Regions from separate parts of the Homo sapiens genome. Here region 2 is linked to region 1. Evidence: fine-mapped expression QTL. Tissue or cell type: whole blood. Region 1 holds a variant in brackets; the other region holds the start of a gene. All regions are shown on one strand. Distances are from middle to middle.

Region 1 (8,102 bases):
CTGAGCACTCATCTGAAGGAAACGCTCCGGAATGGATTCAGAAAATCCGCATGAAGGACCCAGAATTCCTTGCTTTGAAGTCAGACAGACCAGGATGGAAATACTGGCTCTTCTTTACTAGTTTGTGATCTTGGGTGGTGATAGGAAAGCATTTTTCTATTCTATGCAGAACACCCAGTGCCACGAAGAAAGCCGTGACAGGTGCAGCCTGAATGCCAGTCAACTGGCAAATTGTGGCATCTCTTAACATTTATCAAAATATCCTTATCTATAAAAACGGGGATAATAATACTTACCTCTCCAAGCTGTTGTGATGATGGAAGGCTTGAGCTCCAAACCAGCTGGTACAAATCCCAACTCTGTCCCTGGCTAGATGTGTGCCCTTGGGCAGCTTAGATGCTCACTCTGTGCCTCAGTTTTCTCACCTGCAAAAGGATAATAAAAGTAGGACCTAGTTTATAGGATTGGCATCAGGATCAATTAGTTAATATATGTAAAGTGGTTGGCAGATAATAAGTGTTCAGTCACTTTTAGTTCATCCTGGTCTGGCTGGCTCCAAAGCAGGGAATTCTGGGTACTTCATGAGGATTTCTGAATCGATTCCGGAGGATTTCCTTCAAATGAGTGCTCAGATGCCCACTTTCCTTTATTTTTCTTTCTTTCAGGACAGGACATCACTCTGTCTCCCAGGCTGGAGTGCAGTGGAGTGATCATAGCTCACTGCAGCCTTGAACTCCTGGGCTCAAGCGATCCTCTTGCCTCAGCCTCCCATGTAGCTGGGACTATAGGTGTGTGCCACCACAACCAGATAATTAAAACACTTTTGTAGAGATGAGGGTCTTGCTATGTTGCCCAGGCTCTTATGATCACTTTATTTATTTATTTATTTATTTATTTATTTATTTATTTATTTATTTTGTACACAACCCCCATGGTCCCGTGGGGGAGCTGTGTATCGAACACACCAAAAAATGCAGAACCTTTGATGCTGAAATTCCACTAAAAGAGGGAAGGGAGGAAGGGAGGAAGAGGAGAGAGGGAGGGAAGGAAGAAAGGAAAGAAGGAAGGAAGGAAGGAAAGAAAGGAGGAAGGAAGGAAAGTAAGTTTATCACAGGGTTGTTTATAATAATAAAACAGCAATAATCTCAATGTTCTTCAAAAAATGTTTATACAAATTATACTGGATTTATAAAATGGAATACCATGCTTCTATTTAAAATAATGTACAGCTATAATTAATGCTATAGAAAAGTGTTTGTAATAGGATGCTAAGTGGCAATAAAGATTAAAAAGTAGAATGTACAGTATTACATTTTGTATCAAATACATATATGTGTATGCACAGGGAAAACACGGGAAACGTAGTCAAATGTTAGCAGGGGTTATCTTTGGGGATTGTAGATATTTGGGATTGTAGATATTTGCTTCCTTGCTTATGTCTTTTGATGTTGCTCAATCTTTAAAATAAGCATTACTTTTGCAATCAGAAAAAAAAAAAATACACACCAGGCGCAGTGGTTCACGCCTGTAATCTCAACACTTCAGGAGGCTGAGGTGGGTGGATTGCTTGAGATCAGGAGTTCGAGACCAGCATGGTCAACATGGTGAAACCCTGTCTCCACTAAAATTACAAAAATTAGCTGGGCATGGTGGCGTGTGCCTGTACTCCCAGCTACTTGGGAGGCTGAGGCAGGAGAATCGCTTGAGCCTGGGAGGCAGAGGTGAGCTGAGATTGCACCATTGCACTCCAGCCTGGGCAGCAGAGTGAGACTCGGTCTCAAAAGATAAAAGAAAAAAAATACATATTTAGCCATTTTCATAAAAAAAATCAGTAAATAAATACCACTGTAGCAGTCATTCCCAACCCCTCACTCCAATTTGCCTGCACAGCTCTGTTTGTGAGCAGACGCCCAGGACTCTGAGCTTCCGTCCCACTGGGCTCCTCCCTCCTCAGCCCTGAAACCTGCAGGCTTTTTTGCCTCTGGGCTCCCACACCACTTAGTTCTCCACTGCTGCTGTTTTCTCAGACTGTTTTATGCTTATTTCTAGGAGTCTTTGTCTCACACTGGACTATGAGTAGGCAGGACTCAGGCACAAAGCCTGGCACCTGGTCATGATTCATAAAGCTCCCCTGCCTTCTCTCCTGGCCCCTCCTGAAGGCCAGAACTGTAAAGGATTCTAGTTTGCATCCCTGGTGCCCAGCAAAGTGTGTGACACAAGGAGGGGTGTGTGACCTCTGCAGGTGCCTGGGACCTGGGCTCAGAAAAGCCCCACCTTAGCGTCTGATATTCTACAGTCGCTGTCTTATAATTCTTAATAATTTTATCTTGGAATGTGTGTTTTATAAGTGAAGTCAGCCAGGCACAGTGACTCATGGCTGTAATCCCAGCACTTTGGGAGGTCAAGACTAGAGGATCACTTGAGCTCAGGAGTTTGAAATCAGCCTGGGCAACATAGCAAGATCCCCATCTTGACAAAAAAAAAATTTTTGGGGGTGCCGGGCACGATGGCTCAGGCCTGTAATCCCAGCACTTTGGAAGGCCGAGGCAGGTGGATCACGAGGTCAGAAGTTCAAGACCAGCCTGGCCAACATAGTGAAACCCTGTCTCTACTAAAAATACAAAAACTAGCTGGGCATGGTGGCGCGCACCTGTCATCCCAGCTATGCGGGAGGCTGAGGCAGGAGAATTGCTTGAACCTGGGAGGCAGAGGTTGCAGTGAGCTGAGATCGTGCCACTGCCCTCCAGCTTGGGCGACAGAGCAAGACTTCGTCTCAAAAAAAAAAGTTTTTTTTTTTAATTACAAGTTAGGAAAAAAACATGGGAAGTCCACTGGGTCATGCACAGATACTGGGAGCCTCAGTTCACATGCTGTCCCACCTCTGTTGCCTTGAGGGATGAGGTCTCAGCTACCCGCTCCCCAGCCTCAAGACCACCGTAGTCCTCGCTTTCATGCCCGTCCGTGTGAAGAGACCAACAAACAGGTTTTGTGTGAGCAATAAAGCTGTTTATTTCACCTGGGTGCAGGTGGGCTGAGTCCGAAAAGAGAGTCAGCAAAGGGTGGTGGATTATCATTAGTTCTTATAGGTTTTGGGATAGGCTGTGAAGTTAAGAGCAATGTTTTGCGGGCAGGGGTGGATCTCACAAAGTACATTCTCAAGGGTGGGGAGAATTACAAAGAACCATCTTAAGGGTGGGGGAGATTACAAATTACATTGATCAGTTAGGGTGGGGCAGAAACAAATCACAATGGTGGAATGTCATCAGTTAAGGCTATTTTTACTTCTTTTGTGGATCTTCAGTTACTTCGGGCCATCTGGATGTATACATGCAAGTCACAGGGGATAAGATGGCTTGGCTTGGGCTCAGAGGCCTGACATTCCTGCCTTCTTATATTAATAAGGAAAATAAAACAAAATAGTGTTAAAGTCTTGGGGTGGCGAAAATGTTTGGGGGGTTGTATGGAGAGAGAGTGGGCGATGTTTCTCAGGGCTGCTTCAAGCGGGATTAGGGGCGGCGTGGGAACCTAGAGTGGGAGAGATTAAGCTGAAGGAAGATTTTGTGGTAACGGTTGATATTGTGGGGTTGTTAGAAGAAACATTTGTCATTTAGAATTATTGGTGGTGGCCTGGATACGGTTTTGTATGAATTGAAAAACTAGATGGAATAAGAGAAGGAGAAAAACAGGTATAAAAGGTCTAAGAATTGGGAGGACCTAGGACATCTGATTAAAGACTGCCTAAGGAGATTCAGCATAGTCCTGCCAGCAAAGATTATTTATTTACTTCAAGAGTTAAGAGTGGCAGTTTGGGGATAGCATGAGGAGATATCAGCTGTGATGGCTTGGAGAAACAGTGTAAACTGGCAGTGTAAACAAGAGCAGGGCATGTATGAGTAGTTGAGAATGGTGGATAGGAGTATGAGTAGACAGAAGATAGTATGGTTGACAAGTTTTTTTGGGGCACAGTCTAAGTTGGTCTGGTGTCTGGAATGAGACTGGGGCCTAATAAAAAGGAGCTTCTATACAGGAGCTTAAATGGGCTGTACCTTGTAGCATTCTGAGGACAGGCCTGACTTCTGAGAAGGGAAAGTGGTAAAAGTATTGTCCAGTCCTTTTTAAGTTGGTGGCTGAGCTTGGTGAGGTGTGTTTTTAAAAGACCTTTAGTCCGTTCTACTTTTCTTGAAGACAGAGGACCGTAAGGGATATAAAGGTTTCACTGAATACTAAGAGCCTGAAAAACTGCTTGGCTGATTTGACTAATAAAGGCTGGTCTGTTATCAGACTGTATAGAGGTGGGAAGGCTAAACTGAGGAATTATGTCTGACAGAAGGGAAGAAATGACTGTGTGGCCTTCTCAGACCCTGTAGGAAAGGCCTCTACTTATCTAGTGAAAGTGTCTACTTAGACTAAGAGGTATTTTAGTTATCTGACTCGGGGCATGTTGAGTAAAGCTAATTTGCCAGTCCTGGGTGGGGGCAAATCTTCAAGCTTGATGTGTAGGGAAGGGAGGGGGCCTGAATAATCCCTGAGGCGTAGTAGAATAGCAGATGGAACACTGAGAAGTTATTTCCTTGAGGATAGATTTCCATGATGGAAAGGAAATGAGAGGTTCTAAGAGGCGGGCTAGTGGCTTGTGCTATAGCATAGCCTGCCTTTGCTGGTGTGTGGCAATTAGGCCTGGTGGAATTGCCATCAATAAATCAAGTGTGATCAGGGTGAGGAACAGGAAAGAAGGAAATATGGGGAAATGGGGTGAATGTCAGGTGGATCAGAGAGATACAGTCATGGGGGTCAGGTGTGGTATCAGGAATAATGTGGGAGGCCAGATTGAAGTCCGGGCCAGGAACAATGGTAATTGTGGGACTTAACAAAGAGTGAATACAGCTGAAGGAGCTGGGGAGCAGAAAGTATATGCGTCAGGTATGAGGAAGAAAATAGATTTTGGAAGTTATAAGAAATGTAGAGAATGAGTTGAGCACAGTTTGTGATTTTTAGGGCCTCTAAAAGTATTGAAGCAGCGGCAGCCGCTGCACGCAGACATGAG[G/A]GCTAGGCTAAAACAGTAAGGTCAAGTTGTTTGGACAGAAAGGCTACAGGGTGCGGTCCTGGCTCTTGTGTAAGAATTCTGACCCCACTAACCATGCCTAGGAAGGAAAGGAGTTGTTGTTTTCTAAGGGATTGAGGTTTGGAAGATTAATCAGACACGATCAGCAGAGAGAGCACGTGTGTTTTTATGAGAATTATGCCGAGATAGGTAACAGATGAGGATGAAATTTGGGCTTGACTGAAGTAATGGGGGCTGTCTGTGAAGCCTTGCAGCAGTGAAGCCCAGGTAATTTGCTGAGCCTAATGGGTGTCAGGGTCAGTCTAAGTGAAAGCAAAGAGAGGCTGGGATGACGGGTGTAAAGGAATAGTAAAGAAAGCATATTTGAGATCCAGAACAGAATAATGGGTAGTAGAGGGAGGTATTGAGGATAGGAGAGTATATGGGTTTGGCACCACAGGGTAGATAGGCGAAACAATTTGGTTGATAAGGCGCAGATCCTGAACTAACTTGTAAGGCTTGTCTGGTTTTAGGACAGGTAAAATGAGGGAATGGTAAGGAGGGTTCATAGGCTTTAAAAGGCCATGCTGTAGCAGGCGAGTGATAACAGGCTTTAATCCTGTTTAATCCTGTTAAAGCATGGTTTAAACCATGCTGTGGGATGGGATCTTGGCATTGAGTGGGGTAAGGGTGATTAGTTTTTAATGAGATGGTAAGGGGTGCCTGATCAGTCGCCAAGGGGGGAGTAGAGGTATCTTATACTTGTGGGTTAAGGTGGGGGAAAACAAGAGGAGGATGCAAAGGAAGCTTTGGATTGGGAAGAAGGGCAGCAATGAGATGCGGCTGTAGTCCAGGAATAGTCAGGGAAGCAGATAATTTGGTTAAAATATCTTGGCCTAATAAGGGAACTGGGCAGGTGGGGATAACTAAAAAAGAGTGTGTAAAAGAGTATTGTCTAAGTTGGCACCAGAGTTGGGGAGTTTTAAGAGGTTTAGAAGCCTGGCTGTCAATACCTACAACAGTTATGGAGGCAAGGGAAACAGGCCTTTGAAAAGAAGGTAATGTGGAGTGGGTAGCCTGAGTATTGATTAAGAAGGGGACAGACTTACCCTCCACTGTGAGAGTTACCTAAAGCTCGGCATCCGTGATGGTCTACGGGGCTTCCGAGGCAATAGGGCAGCATCAGTCTTCAACCGCTAAGCCAAGAAGGAGTCAGTCAGAGAGCCTTGGGCCAGAGTTCCAGGGGCTCTGGGAGTGGCTGCCAGGTGAGTTGAACAGTCAGATTTCCAGTGGCATCCTGCACAGATGGGACACGGCTTAGGAGGAATCCTGGGCTGCAGGCATTCCTTGGCCTGGTGGTCAGATTTCTGGCACTTGTAGCAAGCTCCTGGGGGAGGAGGTTCTGGAGGAACGCCTGGCCGCTGCGGTTCAGGCTTTTGGAAGTTCTTGTGTGCTGGAGATGTGGCTGGGGTTTGTCTCACAGTGGAGGCAAGGAATTGCAACTTTTTTTTATTATTGTACACCTTGAAGGTGAGGTTAATTAAGTCCTGTTGTGGGGTTTGAGGGCCAGATTCCAATTTTTGGAGTTTTATTTAATGTCAGGAGCAGATTGGGTAATAAAATGTATATTGAGAATAAGATGGCCTTTTGACCTTTTATGGTCTAGGGCTGTAAAGCATCTCAGGGTTGCTGCCGAGCAAGCCATGAACTGGGCTGGGTTTTTATACTTGATGAAAAAGAGCCTAAATGCTTCTGATTTGGGATAAAGAAAAAGGAGCATTAACCTTGACTATGCCTTTGGCTCCAGCCACCTTTTTAAGAGTAAATTGCTGGGCAGGTGGGGGAGGGCTAGTCATGGAAGGAAACTGTAAGCTGGACCAGGTGTGAGGAGGGGAGGCGATAAAAAGATTATAGGGTGGAGGAGCGGAGGCTGAGGAAGAATTGGGACCTAGCTTGGCCTGGCGAGGAGGGGAGAGGTCAGATGGGTCTGTAGAAAAGGAAGATTAGAAAGACTCAGCGACGCTTGGGGTTGGGACTGAGGGGACAGGCGGGAGGGAAAGAAGGAAGATTTGGGACGAGTTGCACTGGGGACAGAGACTAGGAAGGGACTGATGTGTAAAAGAATGCCTGGACGTCAGGCACCTCAGACCGTTTGCCTATTTTACAACAAGAATTATTTAGATCTTGTAGGATGGAAAAATTGAAAGTGCCATTTTCTGGCTATTTGGAACTACTGTCGAGTTTGTATTGGGGTCAAGCGGCATTGCGGAAGAAAATAAGATGCTTAGATTTTAGGTCAGGTGAGAGTTGAAGAGGTTTTAAGTTCTTAAGAACACAAGCTAAGGGAGAAGAAGGAGGAATGGAAGGTTGCCCATAGTGAAGGAGGCAAGCCCAGAGAAAAGAGTAGAGACACGGAGAAGGGGTGGGGGTTTCTTGCCCTCCAGAAAAGCAGAGAAAGGGTTGGGGCACGGAATTAAGGGATTGGGGGTTCCTGCCCCCTAGAAAAGTGGGACTTGCCACTAACGGTGAAGGAGAAGGGGTTGAGGGGTTCTTGCCCCTGCCCCAGAAGAGCAAAGAAAGGGTAGAGACACAGAGAGAAGGGGTTGGGGTACTTGCCCCTCCTCCAGAAAAGCAGGACTTGCCGCTAAGGGTGAAGGAGAAGGGGTTCAGGGGTACTTGCCCCTGCCCCAGAAAATCAGAGAAGGGGTAGAGACATGGAGAGAAGGGGTTGGGGTACTTGCCCCTTCTCCAGAAAAGCAGGACTTGCCGCTAAGGGTGAAGGAGAAGGGGTTGAGGGGTACTTGCCCCTCCCCCAGAAAAGCAGAGAAGGGGTAGAGACACGGAGAGAAGGGGTTGGGGTACTTGCCCCTCCCCCAGAAAAGTGGGACTTGCTGCTAAGGGTGAAGGACCAAGGCAGGTGTCCCTGCGTGGTCTGACACCTTTGAAACGTGGGTGAATAATCAGAGAGGTGTCTCTGCAATGATTAAACACCAAAGGAAGGCTGCCTTCCCAGTCTGTGACCGGCACTGGAGTTTTGGGTCCACGGATAAAACGTGTCTCC
Region 2 (8,102 bases), 85 kb after region 1:
TCTCCATCTCTATAAAAATAAATCTGGCTGGGCACGGTGGCTCACGCCTGTAATCCCAGCACTTTGGGAGGCCAATGCGGGTGGATCACCTGAGGTCAGGAGTTTGAGACCAGCCTGGCCAACATGGTGAAACCCCATCTCTACTAAAAAAAAATTAGCTGGGCATGGTGGCGGGTGCCTGTAATCCCAGCTACTCGGGAGGCGGAGGCAGGAGAATCACTTGAACCCAGGAGGCGGAGGTTGCAGTGAGCCAAGATACGCCATTGCACTCCAGCCTGGACAACAAGAGCGAAACTCTGTCTCAAAAATAAATAAATGTGTAGTGCAGCCTGGACAACATGGCAAGACCCTGCCTCTACAAAAAATAAAAATCGGCTGGATGTGGTGGTGCATGCCTGTGGTCCCAGCTACTCAAGAGGCTGAGGCAGGAGGATTGCTTGAGCCCTGAAGGTCAAGGCTGCAATGAGCTGTGTCGTGCCACTCCACTCCAGCCTGGGCAACAGAGTGAGACCCTGTCCCAGAAAAAAGAAAAATCCATACTGGTGTAAACCCGTATCCAGATTGACTCTTCTCTTAACAAGGACACACTTGGCGTTAGTATGGATCTAGCCTCAAAGACCCTCGTCACAGATGAAGCAGCCCATCGTGACCAGTCGAGGCCTTAGGACCGCAGGAGGAATGTCTCAGGATGAGGGTCAAGCACACTGAGGGTGTGGGCTGGAAAAAAGGGATCTAGTTGTTTCTTCCTAGTCTCAGGAAGCCAGTGCCCCAAGGGTTCACACCTGGTAAGTGTAGGCGTCCTTGGATATGGGCTGTAGAGGAACAGTTTGAATCCAGGTGCCGCCATCTAATAGCTATGTGACAGCAAATTTCTTAATCTGAGCCCTGGTAGCCTCATTTAAATTGGACATAATGCCACCTACCTGAGGATTTGTAAAAGGAAAAGAGAATAAATGTCTGTTACATCATAAGCATTATGATGCCTGTAATTATAATGTCAATGAATCTTAGTTCCCTTTATACACTCAAGGGGATCAGAAGTGACAGGCTGTTGCCCCAGCAAAGTCCCACAGAAGCCAACCCTTATTCGGTGCTTGGGGTTTCCCAGGCTTTCCCCAAGGTAGTTGGTATTTTGGTATTTTCCCCTGCTTAAATGGCCCTTACTGCCGAGGCCAGGCAGGTAAGAATCTCCATGTCTGGAAAAAGTGGAACCTGGGGCAAACTGCAAGCTAAGGATAAGGAGCTTGGCAGGAAAGACGCTAAGACTCTAACAGGAAGTGGAAGGGTGGACTTGGAGGGGGAATTGAAATCAAGAAAAGGAAATAGCCCTAGCTGCTGCCTCAGCCTCCTTGAGGGGAGCTGATACTTGGAGTTGGTTGCCGTTAGGTTACCCTCATTTGGAGTAGTACTGATGAGTGCTCGACCGAAACCTGGGTCTACTCTGGTGGCGATTTTGAGTTCAAGCAGTGCTGCCCCCTACTGGGGGTTGCTAAAAGCACTGCCATTTCAGTGGGCGGGGGGTGTTGGTTCTTTTTGGTTTTTGGTTGGTTGGTTGGTTGGTTGGTTGGTTGGTTGGTTTTGAGACAGAGTCTCACTCTTCGCCCAGGCTGGAGTGCAGTGGTGCGATCTTGGCTCACTGCAACCTCCGCTTCCCGGGTTCAAGCAATTCTCCTGCCTCAGCCTCCGGAGTACCTGGGACCACAGGCCTGCACCGCCACACCCAGCTAATTTTGTATTTTTAGTAGAGGCAGGGTTTTTCCATATTGGCCAGGCTGGTCTCGAACTCCTGACAGGTGATCCACCCACCTTGGCCTCCCAAAGTGCTGGGAAAACAGGCGTGAGCCACTGTGCCCAGCCCACCCTAACCTTTTTTTTTTTTTTTTTTAACAGATGAGCGAATTAAAAGGTTAGGCGATTTTTTTTTTTTATTATTGGAGACTTGCTCTGTTGTGCAGTGGCGCAATCTCGGCTCACTGCAACCTCCCCCTCCTGGATTCAAGCGATTCTCCTGCCTCAGCCTCCTGAGCAGCTAGGATTACAGGTGCTCACCACCACACCTGGCTAATTTTTGTATTTTTAGTAGAGATGGGGTTTCACCATGTTGGCCAGACTGCTCTCAAACTCCTGACTTCAGGTGATCTGTCCACCTCGGCCTCCCAAAGTGCTGGGATTACAAGGATGAACCACCGCGCCTGGCTCTGATTTTTTTTAATCATCTTTATTTTGAGGCAGGGTCTCACTCTGTCGCCCAGGCTGCAGTGCAGTGGCGCCATGAAGGCTCACGGCAGCCTCAACCTCCTGGACTCGAGCAATCTTCACACCTCAGCCTCCTGAGTAGCTGGAACCACACAACATGTACCACTGTGCCCAGCTAATCTTTATTTTTTGTAGAGACGGAGTCTCACCACGTTGCCCAGGCCTCAGCCTCTTAAAGTGCTAGGATTACAGGCATTGAGTGTGAAGTGTTGAACAGCGGCTCAGGGAGGCCAACCAGGGTCCAGCAAACCCCGTCCCTGCTGCCTCCATTGGTCCAGAGCTGGTACCCGCAGCCAGCATGACACTCACCCAGTCCCAGACATTGTGGGTCAACAGAGAGAAATTCAGATAGCTAAGAGAATGGAAGCGGACAAAGGAGGCACAGGAGGATTCCATGCCAGAGTCTGAATTGGTCACCCCCATTCAGGCTCTGCCTGAGGAAAGGAGAATGGGGTCCGGGCACAGTCAGCTGGATGGAGCGTCTGAAGACGGCTTGCACCAGAGCCCTCCGTGGCTGAAGGGAGAAGCTAGGGGGTGAGTCAGCCCCAGGGCTTGATGGAACAGACAGGAACTAGATGATCTAGGAAGGGAGAAATGAGGCTGAGCAGGAGACAGCCCAGGCTCCCTGGCTGCCACTACCTAATCTGTCCCCCTTCACACACATCCCACACACAGTGTTTAGACAGAGCAGCAGAGAAGAAACAGACATCCTGGATCCCACAGGGAGCAGGCTGGGGCTGGGAACAGGAGGTCTGTTTATTCCTGGAAGTCACATATCAGAAGGGTCCCACACCCACTTCTGTCCAGGCCCCAGGCTGAACTCTCCCAGAGCCTGTGACTTCTGCCCGACCAGATCCCGTGGTTCTGAGGACCGGCCCTGGAACCCTGCGTCCTTCCGACCCACCAGCTCCCTCGAGGATGGACTTGAGGCTGGATGCTTTCCTCTTCCCACTTTTTGTCCCAACAGAAGTCCCTGATCTCCAGGATCCCTGACTGGCTGTGCAGAGCTGGCACAGCCACACTCCACGGGCTTCCAGCCCTTCAGGCCCAGCTCTCCCGGAGAGCACCAGAGTCCCTTTGCTCCATTTACTTGCGCTCTTCAGCCAGCAAGTGTTTCCTAATGTCTCACCCCCAGTCCCAGCTTTCCTGCTGCAATTTCCGCCTGTTCCCTCCCATTTCAGGCCTTAAGGGAGTGTGGCTGGGCTTCTCTCCTCCCCCTCACTCCAAAGCCGCACTTGATACAAGGTGGAAATCAAAGCACCACTTCTGGCTTCCCAGCCTTGAACTTGCCCTTCCCTCTCAATGTATCTGGTTTCCTCAGCTTCCCTGTGCAGCAAGAGTGTCACTCCCCTCTTGCTTTTCCCAAGCTCCCCATGCGCCCCTCTCAGCAGATCTGTCTTAGAGGGGCCAGGTGCAGAGAAAGGCAGAAATCCTAATAATGTTCCCAGCGATCGCTGCCTGTCGCGGAGTGCTGAAGGGCCAAGTGTTGATCTGAGTCCTCATCACACGGGACTTCATTTAGTCTCACGATAGGTGAGTACAACTATGGGCCCCATTTGACAGATGAGGAAACTAAGGCAAGGGAACTTTAGTCATTTGCCCAAGTTCACTGGCTTTTTTAAAAAAGGATCCAGACAGCTCTGATTCCAGCGCCAGCTCATGCCTCTTCATCATGGGGGAGGAAAGAGAGGGAGCCATTTGTTGGGGCAAACCCCCACCCATCAAGGGCCATGCACTGGGGTATATGCCGCCATATGTGTTATCCTGTGATATTCCCCACCACGACCTTAATTAGAGGTGGTTTTTCTTGTTCCCATTTTAACACAGGCAAAAACCGAGGCCCAGTAGTACCTTACCCATGGTCACATCCCCAGAGCCATTTGTCCCTCATAGTTCAGAACTTGACTCAGAAAGCAGTTGAGAAAAGTGTGGAATGACCCCAGATTCAGGAAGGCAAGTCTGGCCTTAGAAACTGAAAGGCCCATCAGGTGATGGGATGGGGGAGTGAAGATCCTCAGGCCCCAAACACCTGCCACTGCCACCATCACACACGGAAGTGTGGAGGGAGCCTGGTGTGCTGTCAGCTGGCTGGCCAGTCCAGGGGCTTAAATGTAAATGCATCAGCTGAGGCGGGAAGTCGGGAGGGGTAAGTCAATCATTATTATTCATTAACTGGAATGCATTTCTCAGATTACTCCGAGCTGGAGTAGGGAAACTGCCACCTAGGTGGCAGGGGGAGAGGGGAACTGGGTGGGAGGGGGAGGCAGGCCTCCCAGTTGCTGCAGTTTGGAATATGTCAGGTCCCACCCTCCCAGAGGCGGGGCCAGGGCTGAGTCCTGCCAGCCTCATTTCTCTATCCCTCTGAGAACCCAGACGGGCAGAGCCTGGGTAGGAGAGCCTGGCCCCGCTGTCCCCACTGGGTGGAGACACCATGCACTTGGTCCACTTGTGCTCTTCAGCCAGGACACCAGACATGGTCCAAACCGCTGCAGGGCTGGCTGCAGCAACTCCCTGACACTCAGGAAGGCCCAGGCTGGGCAGGCAATACCTGCTCCCAACAGCCATGTGAGTAGCTACTCCCCCAAACCCCCAAACCCCAGATCCTGGAGAGGCTACTACACCCAGCCCAAGCCACCAGACCCTCGGGGGTGTGCAGGTGGTACAGCCTGCACCCTGCTGGGAAATCACCCCTGGGGGCTGCTCCCTGCCTTTGTCGCTGTTCTAGTGGAGGTGGGTTGGGGGGAATCATTCCGATTAGGGCTGGGAGCTCCAGCTCAGGCCAGGTTTGGGGTAATGGACCCTGAGTCTCACGGGACTTAAGAGAGTTGATGATGCCCTGGGAAAGGGAACAGAAACTGCAAGGCCTCTAGAGAGGAAAAGACATCCTGGGTGGAGGGCACTGGAAGAGATTGAGAAAGAGAAAACATGCTTAGGGGAGGGGAAAGGGGGCATAAGGCCTTGGAGGCCCAGGCTCAGGGTGCTGGGGGAACCTGGGAAGGAAGGGGAGCATCTTCCTTCCTCTCAGCTCAGGGCAGCCATGGGGCCCTGATCCCCTGTCCTGGAGGAGGGGAGAGGTATGAATCCTTTCCTTATTGACTTGGATCCTAGCAACAGCAGCTGCTCCCCTGTTGACAGAAGCAGGAGTTCCCACAGGACCCAGGACCCCTCCCCCTGTCCCCAGGATGTGGCAGCAGAGCCATGACACTGGAGGACTGAGACCAGGGAATGACGGGAAGGACAGGGACAGATGAGAGCCACAGAGAAGCCAGACTCTGCCCAGACTCCTCTTCCCTCTCCTCTGGGCTCAGCCTCAGGCCTGGGGGTGTGGGGGAGTCCCTCTCCTTGCTGCTGGCATCTCCACGTTCACTGCCACACGTGCCCTCCAGCTGCTTCTCTCCTCCCTCCAGCTCCCAGGAAGGACCCTGTTGCTAGTGTGGAGCAAAGACGAGTCAAGTTTATGGGCTGGAAGTCCTACCCGGAGGCTGCTCACTGAGCTGTGATGGCTACAAGGACAGATGGGGGGAAGGGTGCAGGGTGCCCGAGACCTGGCCCGCTGGAGCCTGTCACCTAATGGCTGGCTGGAAGACCACTACACACCAGCCAGCCCTGGTCCATTCTCTCATTTAGAGGCCTCCCCGGTGGAGGCAGGGATACACAAAATGCTTTGGGGCTGGATGGGCCCGCCTTTCAGTCTAAACAAGAGACCTCAACACAGCTGCCCAGAAAAGGCAGATACCAGAAATGGATAAAGCTGGCTGGGTGGGGACTGTCCGAAGGGCAGCCAGCAGTGAGCTCCGGCTGGTTGCTACCACACAGGACATATGTGTTGCCAGACCTGAATTTTCAATAGAAACCAAAGATAGTTTTTTATATAAATGTTTAATTGGCAATTAATTGAAAAATTCTGTGTATCAGCGAACATGATACAGCCCACAGCCTGCGGGTCTGCGCCCCTGGATTAACATGCTGCCCTGCCAGGAGGACACGACCTGCAGCCCCATCCTAACTCTGGCCACCCCATCCTGCAGGCATGCCGGCTGCCGCTCCAGGACTCCCCTGTCCCCAGGACCAAGATGACGCCCAACAGCACTGGCGAGGTGCCCAGCCCCATTCCCAAGGGGGCTTTGGGGCTCTCCCTGGCCCTGGCAAGCCTCATCATCACCGCGAACCTGCTCCTAGCCCTGGGCATCGCCTGGGACCGCCGCCTGCGCAGCCCACCTGCTGGCTGCTTCTTCCTGAGCCTACTGCTGGCTGGGCTGCTCACGGGTCTGGCATTGCCCACATTGCCAGGGCTGTGGAACCAGAGTCGCCGGGGTTACTGGTCCTGCCTCCTCGTCTACTTGGCTCCCAACTTCTCCTTCCTCTCCCTGCTTGCCAACCTCTTGCTGGTGCACGGGGAGCGCTACATGGCAGTCCTGAGGCCACTCCAGCCCCCTGGGAGCATTCGGCTGGCCCTGCTCCTCACCTGGGCTGGTCCCCTGCTCTTTGCCAGTCTGCCCGCTCTGGGGTGGAACCACTGGACCCCTGGTGCCAACTGCAGCTCCCAGGCTATCTTCCCAGCCCCCTACCTGTACCTCGAAGTCTATGGGCTCCTGCTGCCCGCCGTGGGTGCTGCTGCCTTCCTCTCTGTCCGCGTGCTGGCCACTGCCCACCGCCAGCTGCAGGACATCTGCCGGCTGGAGCGGGCAGTGTGCCGCGATGAGCCCTCCGCCCTGGCCCGGGCCCTTACCTGGAGGCAGGCAAGGGCACAGGCTGGAGCCATGCTGCTCTTCGGGCTGTGCTGGGGGCCCTACGTGGCCACACTGCTCCTCTCAGTCCTGGCCTATGAGCAGCGCCCGCCACTGGGGCCTGGGACACTGTTGTCCCTCCTCTCCCTAGGAAGTGCCAGTGCAGCGGCAGTGCCCGTAGCCATGGGGCTGGGCGATCAGCGCTACACAGCCCCCTGGAGGGCAGCCGCCCAAAGGTGCCTGCAGGGGCTGTGGGGAAGAGCCTCCCGGGACAGTCCCGGCCCCAGCATTGCCTACCACCCAAGCAGCCAAAGCAGTGTCGACCTGGACTTGAACTAAAGGAAGGGCCTCTGCTGACTCCTACCAGAGCATCCGTCCAGCTCAGCCATCCAGCCTGTCTCTACCGGGCCCCACTTCTCTGGATCAGAGACCCTGCCTCTGTTTGACCCCGCACTGACTGAATAAAGCTCCTCTGGCCGTTTATGATTATCTCATTCCATATCTCAGGGCGAGGCAGGAGGAAATGGCTCAACACACCAACAATAGAAAGAACCTACAGACATACGCGTGGATTAAGGCAGAGTCCGACTCCAGGCAGGCAAGAAGTGTCGTGCGCACAGACCACCCCTGGAGATGGGGAGCTGGCACATCTCAACATCCAGCCGATTCTGCGGGACAGCCTTGCCCTGACGGGGCCCTCGCTAGCTCCTCCTAGGGTCCAGCCATCACAAAATCCACACAGACTCTGTCTCTGGGAAGTATATTTTATTTACATTTTTAAAATCTTTAACTAGTATCTCTTCCTCCTTTCCACCCCCAGAGACTTGGGAAGGGAAAGAACGGGAACCTCAAACACCTACTCCCCACATACAAATACACACCCCATGGCTCACACCAGCAAATGAAAGTGAAAGAGAAACAGGTCCACCCCTCCCTCTGAAGGGCCCACCAGGTCTGGACAAGGGTGGGAGGGCCCTGGGCTGGGTCTCTAAAGAGAAGAAAAGGAGAGGGGAGCAAGTCAGTTGAAGAGGCTGGAAAGTCATCCAGGGCCCCACCCTCCTCTTCCCTCTGTGCCCTACTGCCTCTGCTGGCAGACAGGGGCAGGGGTCCCTTCGTCCC

Evidence for each region. PIP is the estimated chance that this variant, and not a neighbour inherited with it, causes the effect.
Region 2: GPBAR1 starts here. The variant in region 1 is fine-mapped to the expression of GPBAR1 in whole blood (TOPMed, PIP above 0.99).

Annotation. Positions count from the first base shown.
Region 1 is chr2:218,171,071-218,179,172 of GRCh38, forward strand. No RefSeq gene overlaps it. Among named protein-coding and RNA genes, the nearest start is that of CXCR1, 8.2 kb to the left of the region's middle. RefSeq lists an enhancer at 3,794-4,293. The variant G/A (reference allele first, on the strand shown) is at 5,045.
Region 2 is chr2:218,256,396-218,264,497 of GRCh38, forward strand. It overlaps GPBAR1 (G protein-coupled bile acid receptor 1), which reads left to right and starts at 4,620. Exons shown (of 2, transcript NM_170699.3): 1 at 4,620-4,821; 2 at 6,285-7,466. The coding sequence starts at 6,330. The coding sequence ends at 7,322. It overlaps AAMP (angio associated migratory cell protein), which reads right to left. Exons shown (of 11, transcript NM_001087.5): 11 at 7,734-8,102. RefSeq lists enhancers at 5,067-5,872, 7,796-7,975.